3 linked regions of the Homo sapiens genome follow. The protein of the gene in region 1 interacts with the protein of each later gene in a pairwise test. Each region holds a gene or a part of one and is shown on either strand. Other genes may lie near its edges.

Region 1 (7,781 bases):
GTTCACAGCCATCTACTGGCCGGCTCCGGAGCACTGATCCTGCACACACACTGAGACCCAAGAACCCCATGAGAGAAATCAAATACTAAGGAACAAGATTTTGTCTGGTAGGGTTGATCTTTGAAAGGCTACAAATCATCCTACTAGCCAGGATTTTTCACCCCTTGGGGGTGATGCTGCATCCTCTACATATCCAAATTTCCTCCCTGACACCCTCCAACTGCCAGCCCTGTCCCTTGCTGTTTGGATTCTTTTTCCTTTCGCAATTTCCTTAGGTTCCCTGCTTTGTAATCTTCACCTCAATCCTAACCCCTGGCCAAAGCAGCTAAGCCTCAACAATTCCACAGCAATACTTCTCCTCCGACAGAAACATTCAGGGCTCCAACAGGGTGGAAAACATGAGGCTGCAGGATGTTTAACAGGAGTCTTTGCTGCAGCTCCTCTTGGAGCCTTTAACGAGATACTATCATGCCTATGAACTGCCACACAGATGTACATGGCATAGCACTGCCCAAAAGTATCAGCCCAAGGAACCCTACTTTCCCCAGCAACATCTAACTCAGAAATGCTGATCTTTGGCCTCAATCTGGTCCCAAAATACCTCCAGGGTATTTTGGGCTTCGGTGTGTTCACACACTTGGTCATGTAAATCTGAACACAGACTCTCTCTGCCTTGGCAAGAACCCCCCACACCCCCATAGATAATTACACCCTTTGGTTCTCCCTCTGCAATCTCACCTGCTAGAGACCCTCATCATTCCCACTCCCTGGCTCAGGCCTTCAGAAAACTCAGGTCTGGGCCCTTTGATGATGCTTCCCTGGTCCTGCTCCTGCTTCTAAACATCTAATCTCATCTAACCATCTAATCTCATCTCAACACAAGAAGCCTCATGGATCAGCCAACACAAAACCCTCAAGAGACCTCATGCCTGGAAGCAGGCGGGATCCCTGACCTTCCCAGTGTCATACACAGAATGATACTCTTTTAGCAGGGAAAGGGTCTACAGCCACCATCAGATTCCCAAGAGTGTATGACTGAAAAAGACTTTGAGCTAGTGGCCTCAAGCCACATTCTCTCTGAAGAGGAATGCGCAAGACAGTCCACAGGCATATGCGAGGGAAAAAATAATAAAACCCGTTCATAATTCTCATCTCATCCTTTAAAAATTCTTGTTTAAGGACATTATAAGGAGAGCCGTGTGCATATACAGGTTAGGGGCATGCTAGGCACACATTCCAGTTTCTGTTTGAATGACTGGTCCTTCCTCCTGGGCCCTCACCACAGACCACAATCCCCACCTGGGCTCTGCCACCCAGCCGACTCCATTCTTCTGCCTTTCCAGGGAGGAATCCTTTCTTGCCCTTCTGGAGGAACCCTATCCCTGTGAAAGCAGGGAAAGCTGCCCATCCTGGTGAAGAGCTCACTGTGTTGGAGTCCTACATTCCCAACAACTGCAGGTCAACACACAGGAGAAAGAACAGGCAGTGGACTTTTTTTTTTTTTTTTTTTTGAGACGGTGTCTCGCTCTGTCGCCCCGGCTGGAATGCAGTGGCGCGATCTCGGCTCACTGCAAGCTCCGTCTCTGGGGTTCACACCATTCTCCTGCCTCAGCCTCCCGAGTAGCTGGGACTACAGGCGCCCGCTACCACGCCCGGCTAATTTTTTGTAGTTTTAATAGAGACGGGGTTTCACCGTGTTAGCCAGGATGGTCTCGATCTCCTGACCTCGTAATCCGCCCGCCTCGGCCTCCCAAAGTGCTGGGATTACAGGCGTGAGCCACCGCGCCCAGCCACCAGCAGTGGACTTTATCCACAAGGCTCGGCCTCTGTCTCTTCATCTGTAAAAGAGGACAGTTTTTAACCTTCACAGACGGCTAATTTTTAAAACTTCACAAAACTGTGAGGTTCAACGGAAATCAAAGTGCAAAAGGCAAAAAAAGCCAGGATGTGCGCACACCTGTGGCTATCCTCCCAGCGTGTTAAGGTCCTGAATCTGGCCACATTCATCTCTGCTCCTCTAGCACGGAGTGTGCACCCCGTAAACAAATGACGAGACTGAGGAAAATAAAGACCTGACACATAGCTCCGTGCCACTCTGTGAAGATGCGTGCCGCTTTCATCAAGCACAAGCAGGTTAAGGATATCTGTTGCCGCCACCTTTGGGAAGCGCAGCTGTGGTGATCTGCGCTACCTGCCATCGGAATCCCTGCGGCAGGGCAGGGCCAAGATCTCAAATCGAATGACATGGAAGGAGCTAGAATACAAATCCCGAAGAGCCTGCGTCCCCGGCTTGCTAAGGTCTGGCAGGCCCCTCTGTGGGGCGGACGTGGCACCCCAGACCTGCCTGCAACACCGCGCAGCCCGCCCGCCCCCGAGAGCGCGGTTACCGGGAAAGTCACACTTGTAAGGGCGCTCGGGCTCGAAGTGGCTGCGCTGGTGGGAGCTGAGCTTGGCGTGCGTGGGGAAGCGCTCGGCGCACACCTCGCACTTGAACAGGCTCTCCTGCTCGTGGCCCTTCATGTGCGCCTTGAGGTTATAGACCGTAGTGAACTTCTTGCCACAGCCGCCCACTGGACAGCCGAAGGGCCGCAGCTTGTCGTGCGACTGCAGGTGCCGCTTGAGCTTGTAGGACGTTGTGAAGGCCCAACCACAGCCCTCCAGTGGGCACTTGAAGGGCCGCCGGCCCTGACCGCCGCCGTGCGTGAGCAGGTGCACCTTGAGCTGGTGCTTCTTGGCGAAGGCCAGCGCGCACTGCGGCTCGGGGCAGCGGTAGCCGGGCGTGCTGGGGCCGGAGGCCTGGGGCGCGCGGCGGGGAGCGGCGGCGCCCGCGGTTGCGGGGCCGGGCGGCGCAGACAGCGCGAGGACGCCGCGGTCGAGACGCACCAGCAGGTCCTGGCTGCTGATGGTGACGGCGCCCGCCGGGGCTACGCCAGGGCCGGGGGGGGCGGCCGGGCCGCTGGGGCCCTGCTCGGGGCGGCTCGCCAGGTTGACACGGGAGCCAGGCTCGGCCTCCTGTGATCCGGCAGCCTCGGCGGCAGCGCCGCCGTGCGGCACTTCCAGCAGCACCAAGAAAGAGTCGCCGTCGCTGTCGTCCTCGGCGGGCGGCGGGCTTGGCCCGGAGGCCTCCCCGGGCCGCGCCCCGGGCCCGCCATCTTCAGGGCCCCGCACCAGTAGCAGGCGGCGGCGCGCGGGGCTCGCGCCGAGCGGCGCTGGGGCTCGGCGGAGCGGGCCGGGGCCGCCGCCATGTTGCCCTCCGCGCGCAGTCGGGGCGGGGAGCAGCGCCGGGAGGTCCATCTTGGTCCCAGCGACGGCGTCGGAGCAGCTTCGGACGCAGAGCTGCCCGCGCCCCGCCCAGGTGTGCGTGCGCCGCCCCGGGACGCGATCCGCGCCAAGCCCCGGCGTAGAGTCCGGCTCGGAACCGCGCGTGCGCGGACGCCGCCGGGCGATGCGCGAGGCCTGCTGGGCTGACGTGACGTGAGGCTGGGCTGCGGGGCGCCGGAGGCGGAGGCGGGGGCGGGGCGCCGGGACCGACTAGGGCGGGGCGCGGGGTCGGGGGGCGGGGCGCGGGGTCGGGGGGCGGGGCGCGGGGTCGGGGGGCGGGGCGCGGGGTCGGGGGGCGGGGCGCGGGGTCGGGGGGCGGGGCGCGGGGTCGGGGGGCGGAGCGCCGGCACCTACGAGGGCGAGCGGCGGGGCACGGGACCGACAGGGGACGGGGTGAGGCTCCCAACGCTGAGCGATTCCTTCTCGTTCCCGCTGGCGTGGAAGACGAGGCTTGTCTTGACTTCGAATCGTATTAATATTTCAGACACTTAACAGGCAACCTCTCGTAGGCATTGACTGCGTCCCAGGGGCTGTACCTGTCCGAGCTGATTAAGCGTGCGCGGTCACCCAGGGGTGAGGAAACAGGGACGGCGAGCTCGAGTCACTCGGCAGCCGGCAGATCCAGGATTCGAACCTGTCCAACAGGCCGGACGCCTACCCCCAGCTCACTTAAGTGCAAGCTCGCCTGCCGCCGCTGGCGCACAGACCTCGTTTGCTTTGGCCCAGGTCCTTGCTCGGCACACGGGGCCTCCCTGATACGCAGGACCCCTGCCTGTATTTCCAACTGTATTTCCTACTAAACTTGGCACAACCTCACTCTGCAACAGCTTAATTACTTACTGTTTCCGGTCCTCACCCTCCCCCACCTCACCGTACACCTCCGCATTCAATCTGGACTCCTCCACTTCAACTTCACCACCACTCAGATCCAAACCCGCACTTTATTCCTGGGTACCTGAAAAATAACTACTAGCTGGTCATCGGTCTCCCTCCGCTCCACTCGCTCCCATCCACGGGGCACCGTTTTATGATCTAAAAATTGCACATCAAATTATGCTCACCTCCACCTTGCTCCCGAAGGCGCCTATGGCCTTGCTAGTCTACCCTCCCCTACCTGTTTGCCCTCACTTCCCGCCACTCTCCCGCTGCCCCCCCCACCCCTCCCCCGCACCCCACCTCTTTTTCCCAGTTCATCCAGCAAGCCAAGCTGGTTCCAGCCTCAGAGACTTGGCGCAGCTGATCTCTGATTCCTCTGGGAGGACTCTGCGCCCCTTCTGATCCAAAGCACATGCTTACCCAGTCCCGTATTCCCACCTCTGTCTGATCTGTTTGCTCTTAGAGCTCTCATCACCCGTTGTTTTGTTGAGTTCCTTCCCTGCTCCTTCACTGTCTCTCCCTCTCTGGAATGTAGGCTCCTGGAGCCCAGGAACTGTGTCCTATTCACTGTGTGTGCCCAGGAAGACTCTTGGTGCATATTTGTTAAATACATGAATGCTTTATTATTAAGAGTATTTTTTTAAGTAACACAAATTATAATATTAAAAAGAATAGGATACATCTATTATATATATCAGTTTATGCCGAAAACATATTGTTCCTAGACCATTCAGTAGAGGAAAGAATAGTCATTTCAATAATGGCGGCACTGGGACAACTGGATCTCCACATGCAAAAGAACCAATTTGGACGTGTATCTCTCATCAGAGGCAAAAATTAACTCAAATTAGAGCAAAAGCCTACACGTAAGACATAAAACTATTTGAAGAAAAGTAGGTGTAAATCTATGTGACCCTGGATTAGGGAATAGTTTCTTAGATATAATATTGAAAGCACAAGAAAGAAAAATAGATAACTTGGACTTCATCAAAATTAAAAACTTACTCAGGTAAAAGGACACCAATAAGACAGTGAAAAGACAACTCAGAATGGGAGAAGGGTGTGCAAATCGAATATCTGATAAGGATCTACTATCTGGAATATATAAAGAACTCTTAGCAAGAAGACAAACAGTCCACTTTTTTAAAAGGCAAAGGTTTGAATAGACATATTTCTCCAAAGAAGATAATACAAACAGCCAATAAGCAAATAAAAAGAGGCTCAACATCACGAATCATTAGGGAAATGCAAATCAAAACACAGTGAGATACAACTTCACACCTACTCAAATAGTGGTAATTTTTTTAAAAACAGGATATAGAAAAATTGGAACTCTCACATATGGCTGGTGGGAATGTATAACGTTGCGGTGTGGAAAACAGTTTGGCAGTTCTGCAGAAAGCTAAACATAATCTCCACATGACCCAGCAAGTCCATCCCTGTGTTGCTGAGGCTGGAGTGTGGTGGCTATTCACAGGTGCAATCATAGTGCGACCTCCAACTGGCCTCAAGCAGTCCTTCCGGGTCAGCCTCCCAATTAACTGGACTACAGGCATATGCCACCATGCCCAACTTGTTGCGCAGCATTGATTATGCCACATTCTCGTGATCAAAGAAGTCATAAGACACTGCAGACCCAGGCAAGGGGAACTTGTACTCCACCTCTCAATGGGAGGTGCTGGAAAGAATTTGCAGCCATTTTTAAACTATCACAACTTCTCTGTGCCTCAGTTTCCTCATGTGTAAAATGAAGGGGACTGAGAAAGAAAAAGGGCAGCCCCTGCCATCCAGAAACTGGCCGGGTGCTACAGCTGGGCCACTCTGTTCTGTAAGACTTGAACCATCACGCAGAAAACCAACCTAGGCCAAGGTCACTGAAACACAATGACATGAGACAAAGCAAGGCCACTTCATGATGTGTCTCCACCCAGATAAAGCGAGGTCACTTGCTGTGCCATTTACAAGATACCCAGCAGCCCCTCTCTCAGCTAACGTGAGCAGCCGCCGCTTTTGTACCCCTGACAGCCTGTCTGTCTGTGTGCTTCCCTCTCTGTATATAGGATTTAGTCAGAAACCTAGTCATGGTGTTGACCCGATTTCTGGTAAGAGCCAATCCAGAGCAAATCCCCGCTTCCTAAGACTCCCCCACCCAACCAAAGCTCAAATCTGATACTAGGTTGTTTCAGATACTAGGTTGTTTCAGCCTTCTGCTGAGATACCCTGAAAGGAGCAACAGGACTCCTGGCGAGGGTCAGACGCGCCACTTCACCAGGTGGGCTTGAGTCAGCTCAATGTGGTCATCCAGTGGGGCTCAGGCAGAGACTTGAACTTGGTAGTCTCAAAGGAGTGCCCCAAATTACAAGGACCACAGAGATTGTGCCTTGGCCAGCCAGACCTGTACTCTCCAGGCTGTGTGGAAAGGATTTTGGAGAAGCCAGGGGAAGGGACGCAGATGACACACGCATGCACGCTCAGATTTATTTGTGTCTGGGGAGAAATCCCATCAGCCCAGGTATCGCTGGATGTCCAGCACCTCTTTTGGGCTAAAAGGCATCATGTGGATCTTGAGATTGCTAACAGAGAAGTGTCCAGGATTCCCAAATTTTGATGGGAGTGGGGATGAGGTTCACTGGGAGCAAAAGAGCATCTCTTTGTCAAAGGTCACAAGTTCAAATCCCAGCAGAGGTCATACAAGTCACACAAATGTGGGAGACAGGTGGGCACAGGAAACATAGACTCTCATGCCAAGGGACAAACAGCATACACGCTCCGCCTCACCATGGGTTCTGTAGGGACTGGAAGGGACTGTGGCCAAGTGCAGAGAGCTAGGCCAGCCCAGAGGGGCCCCCAGCAAATCACTGCCACAGAGGTGGTGAGAACATGGTGTTACCTTATATCTTGATTTTCAAAAAATAAGCTCTGGATTTCTCCCAATTTGTAAACATTGGTGACAAAGTCAAATTTTTTTAAAAACAGGACAGACCAAACAAAACACAACTGCAGGCTGAGTGTAGTGCTGTGCTCCTGTGGTCCCAGCTACTTGGGAGGCTAAGGCAGGAGGATCACTTCAGCCCAGGAGTTCAAGGCTACAGTGAGCCATGATTGCACCACTGCACTCCAGCCTGAGTGACAGAGCAAGATCCTATTTCTAAAAAATATATAAATAAAACATAACTGCAGGTCATGCCCGGCCCACAGGCCCCTGTGTGGTTGTCTACTCTGGGAAAACTGGAATGGGAGAGTGCATCACTCAGCCAGGCCCTCCCTCCCTGACCTTGGCTTGCCAGCAAGGAAAGCATACAGTTCCCAGGGACCCTGGGTTTGCAGAGAGCAGGCGCTGCCCAGGGGGAGGACCCTAATGCTGTACTGCAGGGCCTGAGCCTTTCTCACCTCCAACTCTTAAGGCAACTGAACCCTACACTCATCATGGCCAACTGGTTTCTCTTTTAATCATTTTGATGAAAACATTTCTAACTGGACTATACATCCTTGCCTTCTGAAAAAGAAGATGGCACTGGGCACATCAGAAGCCACGCTGTTCCTTCCATGGCGACTACAGCTGTGACCAGCTGCCCCAATTCCGC
Region 2 (6,834 bases), on another chromosome or scaffold:
ATTTCCAATTGAATAATTTAGTCAAACCTGAGTTAGGTTAACATTGAAAAGCATTCTCTCAGGTACATAAATACATTAAGAGAAAGTGACTCATTTCACTAATTCGGTGTGTAAATTATTTCTCAACAGCCAGAACCCACAGTCAAACATTTCCTTGGTTCCATCTTCTAATGCTACAGATTGCTTTAAAGGGCTAATCTGTAAGTAGGTTGTGCCAGCGTCTACCCTTGAATGTAGAATTTGTGCCATTCTGGCAGGTAGATAATCTTACTAGCTAGCTGAGGCTGTAACTTGCCTTTCAAAGCTCACTAAAAAGTTATCAAATGGCTCTCTTACATCATAATGTCTTTTTAAAATGAGGAGGTACTTTATGAATCAAAATGCTAAAATGACTAAGCAGGAACATTTCCCTAAAGCTTTCAAAGGACAGCCTATTTGTCTAAGCAGAGTTGTGTTAGTTTTAGCTAAAAGACCTGCTGTTTTAAAGTATGCATTTTGATGGTCTCAAAACACTTTCAAAATAAAATGCTATCACTGTTAGTATTACTAAATCTGTTCCACTGAAGCTGTTTATATAAATAAGTATCAGAGCTAATTTAGTTTGAATTTGGATTCTTTTAATAGCCTCATAATAAGTGCCATACAGGGTTTTTATTCACAGGCTTGAATGACAAAGAAATTCTGACAAGTTTAATACCCATCTGTGATTTAAGTCTGGCAAAATACAGGTCATTGAAACAGACATTTTAACTGAGTTTTATAAAACTATACAAATCTTCCAAGTGATCATAAATCAGTTTCTCACTACAGGTACTTTAAAGCAACTCTGAAAAAGTCACACAATTACACTTTTAAGATTACAGTGTTTAATGTTTATCAGGATACATTTCTACAGCTAGCAGGATAACAGATGAGTTAAGGGGCCTCAGACTACATCCAAGGGAATGTTTATTGGGCGATCCCAATTACACCACAAGCCAAACGACTTCCAGCGTTTCCTGTCTTTGTACTTTCTTCATTTCCACCTTTGCCCAAGTCATCTGCTTTTTCATGGACCTGTAAAAAATTTTAAGAAGATAACTTTGGGCTGTCAAGTAATCACTACCTCCTCCCAACAATACCCAAAAGATGTTTAAGAACCTCATAATATTAGAAAAATAACATTAATCCTAGTAGAGAGATATACTAATATTTAGTAGTTTAAAAGTAGAAACTACTACTCAAAGCTTTTTCTTGGTGTTGCAAAGACATTACCTTTAAACATTAGGTAAGTGTTGCTGTCTAAATGAAATACTAAAACCCAAATAACTATGTTGTAGACCACCACACGCTACCCTTAATCCTCCATGGTAAGTTACAGTAACCTTAGTTCCGCAGTCACTCTTACTTTGGCAGTTTTTTTAATTGCTTTGGAAAAAAAGGAAAGTGAAAGTGAATAAAACTCAAAATTTCATGCCAAATGAATGACGGGCCTATAAGTAAGGTATAATCCTAAAAAATCTTAATACTTTAAGCAACAGTATTTTGAATTTTGTTCAACAAACCTTTATAAATGATTTTTCTGCTTTACAACTATGGCTCAAGAAAAACCATAAAAATAAAGGGTTAACTGAATGGAAGTGACTACTGAATGTTAATGCCCTCAAGGGGAGGTAAAAGAGAGCCTGTCTACTTGGTGTTTTGCAAGAACCAGATGCAGTTCCCCAGGATAACTTGGGACAACAGCTTCCCACAAGTTAAACAAGTCATGATAACCTGCAGTCCTGAATGAACATGAATGAACATGAATACTTAAGTCCATCCCAGGTTTTAAACTTAACAAAATGTTCTGTTTAACAAGTGAGAAACCCAATCCTGGCAAGAAAATCTGGCCATTTTAAAACTAAAGACTACTTCTGTTTTCCAAACTCAGATCTAATATGGTCAAATGTAACCTGCTTTTTACTGCATCTTAGCAGAACAGTGTTCTTAACTGACCTAGATAAAATAATTCATTTTCACCGTAATTGTCCAATAAAATTGCTTTTCCTAATTTGAACTGCAAGTACAGTTTATCTGGATCTTTAGAAACCGCGACTAACAATCAAAGTGAAAAGATACATGACTGTATGTTAGAAGAAGTTTTATGCATATCCTTTTATGAAAACTTACCACCAGTGTGCGGCCAATGATGCAATGGTCTCCTGAGAGTGAGATCACAGAATCTTCAATAGACACATCGGCCACACCATCTTTGTCAGCAGTCACATTGCCCAAGTCTCCAACATGCCTAATAATGAAAAAGCATCAGATGGATTAGGGCTGATGCCACTAAACATCAAGGTAGTTCATGAGCTAAATTAAAACTTGACTGAGTAGACACAAATTTGCAAACAAGTAGCTAGGCATTCTAAATACAGCTCTTCAAACAAGGCTTCACGTCTACACACTAATGCTCTGGGAAGAAAGATGGGGCTGCACCTGATTTCAGAAGTACCAAAGGGTAAACTCTCAGTTACTGAGTTATGCCTGTTAATTACTGGCATAGCTAACAAAGCTATGTCCCAAGGCCTCTGATATAAAAATCTTGTCCTTAAATTTAATATTTTTCTGAAAGGCTTTCAGAAAACATACACATATAAATGGAGTCTCGACTAGTTTTCAGTATCAATTTTTTTTTTTATCTACAGAAGCTTCCTATGTTTCACAATGATGATTGATTTTGCTAGTGGTTGACAGTACTGTTCATGACATTTCCTGTATTAGTTCCCCTTTGGCACTTGTATTAGTTCTATATTCAATAAATGCTACAAAACCAAATCGTTTTAAGTGTCCCCATTTGTCAATTCCTTTAAGCCCAGGAAGTAAAAGCATTCCAGCATTTGGGAGCAGGGGTTTAGATGAGTCAGCAAGTTCAAAAGCAAAGGTGGGGGAAACACGGAATTATCTTAGCACATATTTACAAGTAGTATACCATATGAACTCCAGAAAGCTATCGCCATTATTACAAGAGTTAAGCATCTTGTTACCTCTCTTCATCCTTTGGCCCACCGTGTTTTCTGGATAGAGGATTAAAGTGAGGACCTGCACTGGTACAGCCTATTTATAAGAAGAAGAAAAAAAAGCTAAATTATGAATTAAAGTTCCCAAATACATTCTAAAAAGAAACACTGCTAAAACTTCCCATGGAGAAAGTGCTGACCTGCATCACGACTTCTGGGATAAGCAACACCTTGGTACAGCCACAGTGAGAAGGGAACAGAAACAAGTCTATGGCCAGGCATGGTGGCTAACACCTGGAACCCCAGCACTTTGGGAAGCTGAGGTGGCTGGATCATCTGAGGTCAGGAGTTTGAGACCAGCCTGGCCAGCATAGCAAAACCCTGTCTCTACTGAAAAAATACAAAAATTAGCTAGGCGTGGTGGTGCGCACCTATAGTCCCAGCTACTTAGTAGGCTGAGGCAGGAGAATCGCTTGAACCTGGGAGGCAGAGGTTGCAGTGAGCTGAGATCGCACCACTGCACTCCAGCCTGGGCAACAGAGCAAGACTCCATCTCAAAAAAAAAAAAAAAAAAACCCCACCAAGTTCTAACTACTGTCTGACACTTGTAAAGTTAACACCCTTCTCTGGGCTTTGGCTTCTTCACTGTAAAAATAAGGGACCAGACTGATCTTCAACAGTTTTTCTATTATTAAAATCCCATGGTTATGATCCAAATTCTTAAGAACGTAGTATACTTTACAAAAAACTCATCTCCCCAGCAACATATGCCAAGCAGTTCTATCTGTGCCCTTTACTTGGTGCAGGCAGAATATTCAACAGCATCTTATGTGCAAGGGCCAAGGCTGCTGCCTTACACAACTCGAGGGGGCGGCATTCCAACTGTATCCTGTGTAGAAGGTGCTGCTGTGCACCAGGGGATGACATTCACAGAGCACAACCTCGACAGCACAGGAGGCCCTTTCATAACACGGCTGTCTTCAGCCACGCTCTCACCCGCAGGAGTCCCACACAGGGAGAAAGGCAGGCAAGTTACAGGAAGCAGCAGAGCAATCACCTCCCAGACCAGAGGCGGTAAAGCCAAAAAGCAACTCGGGGGAATTTCAGCAATTACAGAAATGGATCAAATCTGATCATTACAAATCACTATTTGAAACTAAATTAGCAAGATGAATAAAGTTAATTTAAGAAGAAATCTATAAACAAAAAAATCAGATTATTACTCAAATATGGCAAAAGATCACTAAATGCAACTTAACTCATAAACTTCTGTTAACTTGCTTCCAATCCCAAATTAAGAAAATAAAATTTGGCAGTTTCTCTGAACCTACTCTGGTTCAGGGGTTGCCTGATTTTTTAAAAATACTTTAAAAAAATTTTTTTTAAGCATATTCCAAAGTACCAATAATCCTCTGCATTCCATCTTCAGTTTGTATCATACTTTGGTCCCACTAAGAAGCCTGTGTTTGGGGTGTAGAGCTACTCTTACATGGCATTATGCAAATAAATGCAGCCCCTTTGCTCGAGGCACCCACCCTCAACCCCCAGCTCAAACACCTGGGATCATTACAAAAGTTAAGAGCCCAAGTTTTTATTTCCTATTTGCCTTCTTTAAAAAACACCCTCTTCTGGCTGGGTGCGGTGGCTCATGCCTGTAATCCCAGCACTTTGGGAGGCTGAGACAGGCGGATCACGAGGTCAGGAGAGAGACCATCTTGGCTAACACAGTGAAACCCCGTCTCTACTAAAAATACAAAAAATTAGCCAGGCGGGGTGGCGGGCACCTGTAGTCCCAGCTACTCAGGGGGCTGAGGCAGGAGAATGGCATGAACCCGGGAGGCGGAGCTTGCAGTGAGCCGAGATCGCGCCACTGCACTCCAGCCTGGGCCACAGAGTAAGACTCCGTCTCAAAAAACAAACAAACAAAAAAACACCCTCTTCTACAATGATGCTGTAAGACAAAACATCAACTCTTTCCCTTTCTTTTCCACACCTAGGTATCAAAGCCCAGTTTTGTGGCTAATCTTAAGGTTGATCTTCTTCTCTTTTTTTGGTTTCTAAAGACACACTACACCAAATCTTAAGACAAAGGGCACTGGACCTTCAGAAGCAGGTCCACCCCAGTCTTCACAATCTAGTGCAGTTACTTTTCTTGTGTGTACTCTGCTGGCATTATTACAAAAATCAGGATATGGTCCCAGTTCCTGCAATTTTAGCACAGTGCTTATATACAATAAAGTTGACCTCTTTTTTAAAAGAAAAGTTGAGGGTTTTCCCAGGCACAGTGGCTCACACATGTAATCCCAGCACTTTGGGAGGTCGAGGAGGATAGACCACTTGAGCCCAGCAGTTCAAGACCAGCCTGGGCAACATGATGAAACCCCACCTCTAGAAAAAAATACAAAAATTAGCCAGGCGTGGTGGTGTGTACCTGTAGTCCCAGCTACGGGCCAAGGCATGAGGATCAATGGAGCCTGGGAGGTCAAGGCTAAGGTCAGCCATGATCGCACAGCGCCACTGCACTCCAGCCTGAGCGACAGAGCAAGACCCTTTCTCAAAAACAAAAACAAGTTGAGGGGTTTTAACGTTTAGGGGCTACTCTACTGTTTATCTAACTAGGGTGAACAAGTATGGGTCACCAGCACAGCACAACACCCACCTGCTGTATTATCTCCAAACTCATGAACATGGAATCCATGCAGGCCTTCAGTCAGTCCTTTAATGCTTCCCCACACCTTCACTGGTCCATTACTTTCCTTTAAGAAAAGTGCAAAGTTGGAGAGAGTTTCTGAACAAAGAAAACAGCTGATTTACCTTTACCCCTCACAGTGAAGTAAAAAGCAGCCAGACTTGGGAGTGGAAAAATCTGTGTCCAAATCCCAGGCTGACCACTTTCTAGCCAGTGAACCTCCAGCAAGCTGCTTAACTGCTCTAGGCCTGTGTCCTCAAAAGGGAGATGGTAATCTTGTTCCCACACTCAATGCACAAGCACCCTGTGGCCAGGCTTCATGATTAAATAACATAAAAAGCACCTAATAGAGTGGCAAGCAAAGTGAGTACCTACACATCAGTGTTAGATACTTCATAGGCTTTGACTATTACAGTAAATAGGTAATGTAAGTACCTATTTATGTAGTAAATACTTTTGAATAGGTTATATTTGTACATGTTGAATATACATGTACATGTAAACGTTTTTTATTTTGAGACAAGAGTCTCGCTCTGTCGCCCAGGCTGGAGTGCAGTGGCATGATCTCAGCTCACTGCAAGCTCCGCCTCCCGGGTTCACGCCATTCTCCTGCCTCAGCCTTTTTAACCCAAAAGGTGTATGTCTCATCCTACACTCTGGAGCCCCTTGCTTTTTCTCCACGCACACCCTTTTCCATATGGCATACTCACTTGACTTTAAAAAAAAAAAAAGAAAAAGTCGCCCTGGAAATGTCCAACAGGCTACCCTGGGACCCCTGCTCTCCACTCCCCACTCAGTGAGTGTTTTTAAGTGTCCATCATAAGTTTTTTTCTTTTTTTTTTTGAGACGAGTCTCGCTCTGTCGCCCAGGCTGGAGTGCAGTGACATGATCTCGGCTCACTGCAAGCTCCGCCTCCCAGGTTCATGCCATTCTCCTGCCTCAGCCTCCTGAGTAGCTGGGACTACAGGCGCCCACCACCACACCCGGCTAATTTTTTTGCATTTTTAGTAGAGACGGGGTTTCACCGTGTTAGCCAGGATGGTCTCCATCTGCTGACCTCGTGATCCACCCGTCTCGGCCTCCCAAAGTGCTGGGATTACAGGCGTAAGCCACCACGCCCGGCTATCACAGGTATTTTTAATTAGCAGTCAGAAAATATTATAT
Region 3 (7,868 bases), on another chromosome or scaffold:
ATCTCTGTGAACTCTATACTCACATATTCTACTTATACATTCAACTGCCTTGTAACCTTAACATGTAGCATAAGTAACACATTTTTATTTGGCTAAGCCGCTGAGAACTTGGGGTTGTTACTGCAGCATACCCAGGCCCATCCTGACATACACACCCCTCCACCACAGGTCCAAACATCACCACTTACCAGGAGAGGTCGAGTGTCCCTTATCCAAAATGCTCGGGACTAGAAGTGTTTCAGATTTTGGATTTTGGACTCTTTGTATTATACTTGCCTGATGGCGCTTTCCATATCCAAAATCCAAAATGCTCCAATGAGCACTTCCTTTGAGTGTCATGTCAGTGCTTACAAGGTTCAGATTTTGCAGCATCTCAGATTTCAGATCTGAATGCTCATCCTGTACTTGCCGCCCCTCCCGCCGCCCCATGTGCTGCTGCTTCTCAGTGGCCAGTTCATTGGCCACCTCTCCATTTTCTTTCGAGACGAAGTCTTGCTCTGTCGCCCAGGCTGTAGTGCAGTGGCGTGATCTAGGCTCACTGCAAGCTCCACCTCCCAGGTTCAGGCCATCCATTTTCTTTCATGACAGAGTCTTGCCCTGTTGCCCAGGTTGGAGTGCAGTGGAGTGATCTCAGCTCACTGCAACCTCTGCCTCCTGGGTTCAAGCGATTCTCCTGCCTCAGCCTCCCGAGTAGCTGGGATTACAGGCATGTGCCACCACACCTGGCTAATTTTTGTATTTTTAGTAGAGACAGGGTTTTGCCCTGTTGGCCAGGTTGGTGTTGAACTCCTGGCCTCAAGTGATCCACCCACCCCGGCCTCCCAAAGTGAGCCACCACACCCAGCCCCACCTCTCTATTTTCAAACATGCCAGACATGTCGCAGCTTAGGGCCTTTGCACAGGCCGTTCCTTCTGCCAAGAATGTTCTGCCCTGTATAGCCACACGGCTCACTCTGTCTCCTTCCACTGCAAGTTCCAATGCTGTTTTCTCAGAGGACGGCTCTGCCCACCCCTGCAGCAGGGCCTCTGACTGCCTTATGGTGATGGACTTGTTCTCCCCATTGCACTTCTCACTGGCCAACGCGGTGTATGGTTCCTCATTACGTGTATGTTCTGCCCCCCTCACTCGAGTATGAGCAGGGGCTTTCATTGATTTTGTTCATTGGTGTGGAGCAGTTTCAGCAGTGGGAGGGGTGAAAGCCCAGCTGGAGTGGGCTGTCAGGAGACTTGGGCGGTAGGCAGAATGCCCCCCAAAGGTGTCACGCCCTTATGCCTGCGCCTGTAATATTATGTTACATAACAAAAGGGACTTTGCAGATGTAAGTAGGTTACCAATTAGTGACCTTAAAATAGGGAGATTATCCTGTTTATCTGGGTGGACCCAATCTAATCACAGGAACACTTAAAGGCATAAAGCTTTCTCCAGCTGAAGGTGGGAGAAATGGGACAGAAAGGATCAAAGACGTGAAGTAGTAGAAAGGCTGGCTTTGGCCGGGCACAATGGCTCACACCTGTAATCCCAGCATTTTGGGAGGCTGAGGCGGGCGGATCACTTGAAGCCGGGAGTTCAAGACTAGCCTGGCTGGCATGGTGAAACCATGTCTACTAAAAATTTAAAAATTAGCTGGGCATGGTGGAGGGCACCTGTAGTCCCAGCTACTCGGGAAGCTGAGGCAGGAGAATCACTTGAACCCGGGAGGCGGAGGTGGCAGCGACCCGAGATTGTACCACTGCACTCCGGCCTGGATGACGAAGCCAGACTCTGTCTAAAAAGAAAAGAAAGTCTTGCTGGTTTTGAAGATGTGAGCGACCTCTAGAAGCTGAGAACAACCCCGGGCCGGCAGCCAGCAAGCGGAGACCTCATACAACCATGTGATGAATGTCAACAACCTGAAGGAGCCTGTAGCCCGGGTCTCCCCTAGGGCCCCTGCTAAGAGCTGAGGCAGCTGACACCCTGATTTCAGCCCTGAGACCTGCAGCAGAGAAGCCAGTCAAACCCACCTGCACTTCTAATGCACAGAACCGTGAGATAATGGGTGCTCTTTTGTGGTTGGTTGTTATAAAGTGATAGAAAACGAATTAACTAGGAGATAAGAGGAGACGCCAAGTACAGACAACCTGTTAAAAACTCTTGCTGGGATGGGAAGTAGGAAAATGAGGCAGTGGCTGGAAAGGGATGGGGGAGTCAAGGGCTTCTTTTTAAGGTGCCTGCCCCTGGGAGAGGGAAGCTGCAGTGAGAGGAAGCACCGCCCCAGCGTTACATAATTCCACCCTCGCAGGACACAGAGGCAGGGGTGCCACATTCATACTTGGGTAGAATGTGTAGATAAAGCAGCCGGCTTGTGGTGGACCAGGTATGAGTTCCCAAGCCAGCTGGGCACTGCCCGCAGCACTGCGCTGTGTCAACACCTGCAGGTCTTTCTCGGCTTTGGAGCCAAGAAGTCACCTTGCCAGGAACAGCCTCCAACCAATGACTGCAAGGTGAGAGGTGAATGCTGGGTCCCCTTGCAGCAGGGTGAAGGGTGAATGCCTTGGCTCCCCTGGCCCTCGGGGAGGGACTCTGAGGATGGTTCCTACACAAGCGCCTGCTACAGTAACTGGACTGGTAGCACCCCCTTCCCTGCCTCACACCCCTACTCTCCTGCTGGTGTCTCCTGGGGTCTTCTCTCAAGCTAACAATTTGGACTTTTTTTTTTTTTTGACGGAGTTTCACTCTGTTGCCCAGACTGGAGTGTGGTGGCACAATCTTGGCTCACTGCAACCTCTGCCTCCTGGGTTCACGCGATGTTCCTGCCTCAGCCTCCCAAGTAGCTGGGAATACAAGTGTGTGCCACCACATCCGCTAATTTTTGTATTTTTAGTAGAAACGGGATTTCACCCTGTTGGCCAAGCTGGTCTTGAACTCCTGACCTCAGGTGATCCACTTGCCTCGGCCTCCCAAAGTGCTGGGATTACAGGTATGAGCCACCAGGCCCGGACAAAATTTGGACTCGAATCCATTTCAAGTCAACCTCTGGGGGAACCTGGACTATGACACCAGTGCTTTTCAACTACCCTAGGGAGCACCCACCAAGCTCCACTTCTTTTCACAAAGCAGTTGCTCATAATCTCATCACACCCTTGCAACTCCATGAGGTTGAGATTGGTAGGGCAGGTACTTTTTTTTTTTTTTTTGAGACGGAGTCTCGCTCTGTCGCCCAACCTGGAGTGCAGTGGCACGATCTCGGCTCACTGCAAGCTCTGCCTCCCGGGTTCAAGCCATTCTCTTGCCTCAGCCTCCCAAGTAGCTGGGACTACAGGCACCCGCCACCACGCCCGGCTTTTTTTTTTGTATTTTTAGTAGAGGTGGGGTTTCACCGTGTTAGCCAGGATGGTCTCCAGCTCCTGACCTCGTGATCTGCCCGCCTCGGCCTCCCAAAGTGCTAGGATTACAGGCATGAGCCACCGCGCGCGGTCGGACAGGCATGTTTTGAGCAAGGCCCAGCCTGAACCCCAATGTGTGTCTCAGGCAGGCCAGGACTCATCAGCCCCTTCAGTCCTCTAGGGTGTCTGGGGTACTGGCAAGTACCAGGGGACCCAGAGATGGAACGTCTGGGCTCACTCATGTACACCCTTTGCAGGCTGGGGCACGGTGGCTCATGCCTGTAATCCCAGCACTTTGGGAGGCCGAGGTGGGCCGATCACCTCAGGTTGGGAGTTCGAGACCATCCTGGCCAATATGGAAAAACCTCACTTCTACTAAAAATACAAAAATTAGCCGGACATGGTGGCGCGTGCCTGTAGTCCCAGCTACTCGGGAGGCTGAGGCAGGAGAGTCGCTTGAACCCGAGAGGCAGAGGCTGCAGTGAGCCGAGATCGTGCCACTGCACTCTAGCCTGGGTGACAGAGCAAAACTCTGACTCAAAAAAAAAAAAAAAAAAAGCAAGAAAAGAAAACGGAACCCAGCAAGCCAGAAAGGAGCCTGTGCAGCTCCTCAGGTGCAGGAGTCGCCCTTGAGGCAGGGTGAGGCCTCCTCACGGGCGACTGGACACCGGCGGAGCAGGACGCAGGACCTAGCCCCGTTCGCTCCAGGCTGCAGGGGAGCCACGCTGCCCACCACGGCGTACCCAGTCCCTCCCTGAGCGGGTCTCGGCTTTCCCGCGGAGCCTAATGGGCCTCACTGGAGTTCCGTTTCCAGACGCCTTGGACCAGGCTGCTCTGGAGGTCAGCCGCCCCCGAGGCTGAAGAGCCGGCGGCTCGGAGAAGGCTGCGCGGGAGGCCGCGCCCTCCGGGTCGCGTGGGCCGGGCGTCCGCTGTCTCTCCAGAAACACCCGCGTCCCGCGGCAACGGCCTCTTCCTAGCCCGCCTCGCCCGCTCCCCGCCCGCCCAGAGGGCCCCGCACGAGCTCCGTCCACCTCCTCCTTCCGCGCTCGGGGCCAGGACGGCGGCGGGAAACAGCTTACGGAGGCTACCGCAAGGGAGGCGAAAAGCAGCCAGCTCGCAGAGCTCCACGGACCCGGCGCGAGTCCCCAGCCACACTCCGCACTGCCCCTCTAGGCGCGGCGCCGCTGCCCGCACAAAGCTTCCCGCGAAACTGACGTCGGCGCGCGCAGGCACCGCCCCCGGCCTCGCCCCTCCCCCGCGCTCGCCCCGCTCCCCAGAGCGCCGGCGCACTCGCCCTCCTCCTATTGGTTGTTGCGGGGCGGCGCGCGCCGGTCGGCGCCGTGCGCGCCTAGCCATTGGCCGAGCGGCGGCGGGCCGGGGGGTGTGTCCGGGGCTGCGCCCCGCCCCTCCGCTCCGCTCGCTGTGGTGCGCGCGGTGGCGGTGGCGGCGGCGGCGGCGGCGCGTGGCAGGTCCGGCGGGCGCGAGGCGGCGGCGGAGGCCCGAGCCCGGCCCAGCCTCGTCCCGCCCGGAGCCCGCCTGGCTGCTACCCCGACCCCGGCTCCGGTCCCGTCCTGTCCCGGCGCGCCGCGGCCTCGCCCCGGCCCCCGCTCGGCGCCTCCCGAGGGAGCGGCGCTGCCGGCCGAGAGCGCAGGCCCGGCCATGACCGACTTCAAATTGGGTATCGTGCGGCTCGGCCGGGTGGCCGGGAAGGTGAGCGGCGCGGAGCCCGCGACCCGGCCCGTCTCGCCCGTCCAGGCCTCCGCGCGGGGCCGGGGGCGGTTGTGCGGGCGGCGGCCGGGGCGGGGGCGCGGAGCCCGGGATGGGCCCCAGCGGGGCGGGGGACGCTGCGCGGGCCCGGCTGCTGGCCCCGCGCGGGTGCAGCTTCCTCTCGCAGGCCGGCGGGCACGCACCCCTCGGCTCTGGGGTGCACCTGGCCACCCTCGGCCCTGCCCTGCCGGAGGTGGAGGCCACGGCCCTGTCCCGAGCCGGGTGCGGAGATGCGTGGCTCGAGCCCGAGCCGCGTTCTCCCGGAGCCCTCCCAGTGGTGTCGGCGATCCGGGGCCTAGCGCGGCGTCCGGGCTGCCAGTGCGGCCACACGGTTTAAACACAGCGCCCTTTCCGAGGCAGCGCCACTTCCACACCTCTCGCCGAGGCGGGTCTGGTGTGGGCTCTTCTGTGCCTCCCAGTTCTCAGCAGGGCTTCAGGCTCGTTTTAACGCTGCCAGGGGTTGGCCACGTTAGGCTGAGCCTCAGACTCGGAGCAGAGAGGAAGAAGCCTGGGCCCTGATGCTGCAGACTCAGGGCCTTCCTCGACTTCTCTTCTTACTTGGCCCCCACGCTCCACGTTTGAGGCTGGGGATTCCATGGCACCTGTGGGCATTGAGGCTTGGCGGTTTCTCGGAGCCACCTGTGCAGCTGCACCAGCCAGGGTCCTTACCCGGATGGGAGCCCTGTTCCCGTCACCAGCGGCTGCGGCTTTTGGTGGGAGAGAGGAGCCGAGGCAGTGTCAGGCGGCGTCAGGTAAAACAGGTTCAGATCCCAGAAGAAAAACTGCCAAGAGGGAGACTGGCCCGTTCTGGGACCTGTTCCTGTTTCCTGCCCCTGCTGCAAGAGCATAGGCAGGGCCTGCTGGGGAGGAGGCTTTTTTCCACCAGGGAAGGGTGGGCTCTCCAGTCAGGTCGGAGACCAGAGACCCCTTCTAACTCCACCCATGATGGCATTGTCATCCCTTACAGCTTTTCTTTGGAACATTTCAGATGGACAAAAAGCTAAAAAGGGTAATCAGTGAGTAGCTCAGCTTAATAAACACACCCTAATCAAAACCTTCTGGCTCTTCTGCCTCAGCCCCGGCCCCTCCCTCAGCTCAGTGAAACAGTCTTTGCCTAGGTTTATTGGTGCGTTGAATGTTCAGTGCCACTGTTGGGGTTAGCCCTGCGAGGATGAAGCCTGATACCAGCTCCTCTGGCGCAGACTAAAGTGGGCAGCTGGCTTTTAACCTGTCTGCCTGTGTTTTGTCGTAGACTGCACCACCCCAAACGGTGGAATGAGGCCCCCATGTGCTGAGCTGTCTTGGTCTGAAGAGGCCTGTAGTTACTTTCCACTTCACAGGAAAATGCAACAGGCTCCTGCCTGTTCTGGTTATAAGGTTACTGCACCTCACGCAGATCCCAAATGTAATGATTTGAAACATGTGGTTAACTTCCAGACCAAATACACGCTGATCGATGAGCAGGACATCCCGCTGGTGGAGAGCTACTCCTTTGAGGTAAGTAAGGATGGCTGTTCCCTCCCCTGATGCTCGTGGTCAGTGCCCAGGAGGGTCACGAGGAACGAGCTCTCTCCCCTGTGCTGCAAGAGCAGGCGGCCCCACAAGTGGACAACTGGTGCTGGCCTGTGAGCCCTGAGCCGTCAGCCCCACTTCGAGCCGTGGCCCTGCAGAACCTGGCTGTTGCTGCCACTGGAGCCCACTGTGGCCCACATGGCCTGGCGACAGTGGTCTTCCTCACTTTCACCCCAGCTGCCAGCTCCTCTTGAAAGCAAATGGAATGTTCTCATGTTTGTGATTGTGTCACGTGGACCATGTCTGTTAGCTCGAAGACCCTGCTCTTTAGAGCTAGCCACCTCTGCTGGGCCTGCCTTAGCAGTCCCTCCTGGCTGCCCAGCTGCCTCCCGTTCTCTGCTCTCATGGGGTCTTCCTGCCTCTTCCCAGCTTCCATTCCTGCCGCTGAGCTTGGCCTCCCTCACCATCCTTTATCTCTGTGCCCCACACATTCACAGTAGTGACCTCTCCAGGGGGTTCTCTATCTCACTGCACCGTGGGCTTTTTTTAAGGGTAGGAAAATGTATTTGTCTATGTCCCATTGTATTTTGCAGAGTTGTTTGTGAGTGTTTCTTGCTCGAATAGACAGAGTGGTGGTGGGCCACGCTGGCCCCTGGGAGCCATGTGCCTGTGGGAAGCTCTGCACTCCCCAGGGTCTCAGGGACAGGGCTGGCATTTGTCCCTCTGGCTTGCTTGTTTCACTTGGTTTTTCTAAGAGGGAATTGAAGTGTTGCTGAGAATTGGAGGTTTTTTAACAGCTCTTTCCCTTGTTCCTTCTCAGGCCCGAATGGAAGTGGATGCAGATGGAAATGGTGCTAAGATATTTGCCTATGCCTTTGACAAGAACCGAGGAAGGGGCTCTGGGAGACTCCTTCATGAGCTGCTGTGGTGGGTGTTTCCAAGCTGTCTCTGCCCCCCGCCACTGGGCTCCTGGGTGAGCTCCGATGGCACAGGGCGCCTGGAGCCCCCTGCCCCGCTGAAGCCCTGCCTTGCCTTCCCTGAATCTCGCAGTTATTTTTGTGTCCTTCACCACTAACCCAAAGGAACGAATGATTTGTATGTTGCACTTCAAACACCAAGTGGACTTTCTGCTGGGAGCTTGCCCAGGACCGGCAGCCTCTGGAGGGACGGTGGTTGCTCCCCTTGCTGGGTTTTGCCGAGCCCCCCCGGTGTGCATGGTAGGGACC

What was found. Proteins that work in one complex are often made in the same cells at the same time.
Region 2: the proteins of ZXDC (region 1) and SOD1 interact in binary tests that used the Homo sapiens proteins (3 or more experiments, as listed by UniProt).
Region 3: the proteins of ZXDC (region 1) and ZMYND19 interact in binary tests that used the Homo sapiens proteins (3 or more experiments, as listed by UniProt).

Annotation. Positions count from the first base shown.
Region 1 is NC_000003.12:126,472,572-126,480,352, forward strand, and holds the start of ZXDC (zinc finger protein ZXDC), read right to left. Parts: upstream 3,321-7,781; 5' UTR 3,295-3,320; coding exon 2,388-3,294; intron 1-2,387. UniProt on the Homo sapiens protein: Cooperates with CIITA to promote transcription of MHC class I and MHC class II genes.
Region 2 is NC_000021.9:31,662,693-31,669,526, reverse strand, and holds the end of SOD1 (superoxide dismutase [Cu-Zn]), read right to left. Parts: intron 5,738-6,834; coding exon 5,641-5,737; intron 5,222-5,640; exon of another isoform or gene 5,045-5,221; intron 3,079-5,044; coding exon 3,009-3,078; intron 2,270-3,008; coding exon 2,152-2,269; intron 1,057-2,151; coding exon 949-1,056; 3' UTR 596-948; downstream 1-595. UniProt on the Homo sapiens protein: Destroys radicals which are normally produced within the cells and which are toxic to biological systems.
Region 3 is NC_000009.12:137,587,418-137,595,285, reverse strand, and holds the start of ZMYND19 (zinc finger MYND domain-containing protein 19), read left to right. Parts: upstream 1-4,773; 5' UTR 4,774-5,022; coding exon 5,023-5,073; intron 5,074-5,098; exon of another isoform or gene 5,099-5,648; coding exon of another isoform or gene 5,649-5,882; intron 5,883-6,567; coding exon 6,568-6,627; intron 6,628-7,462; coding exon 7,463-7,569; intron 7,570-7,868. UniProt on the Homo sapiens protein: May be involved as a regulatory molecule in GPR24/MCH-R1 signaling.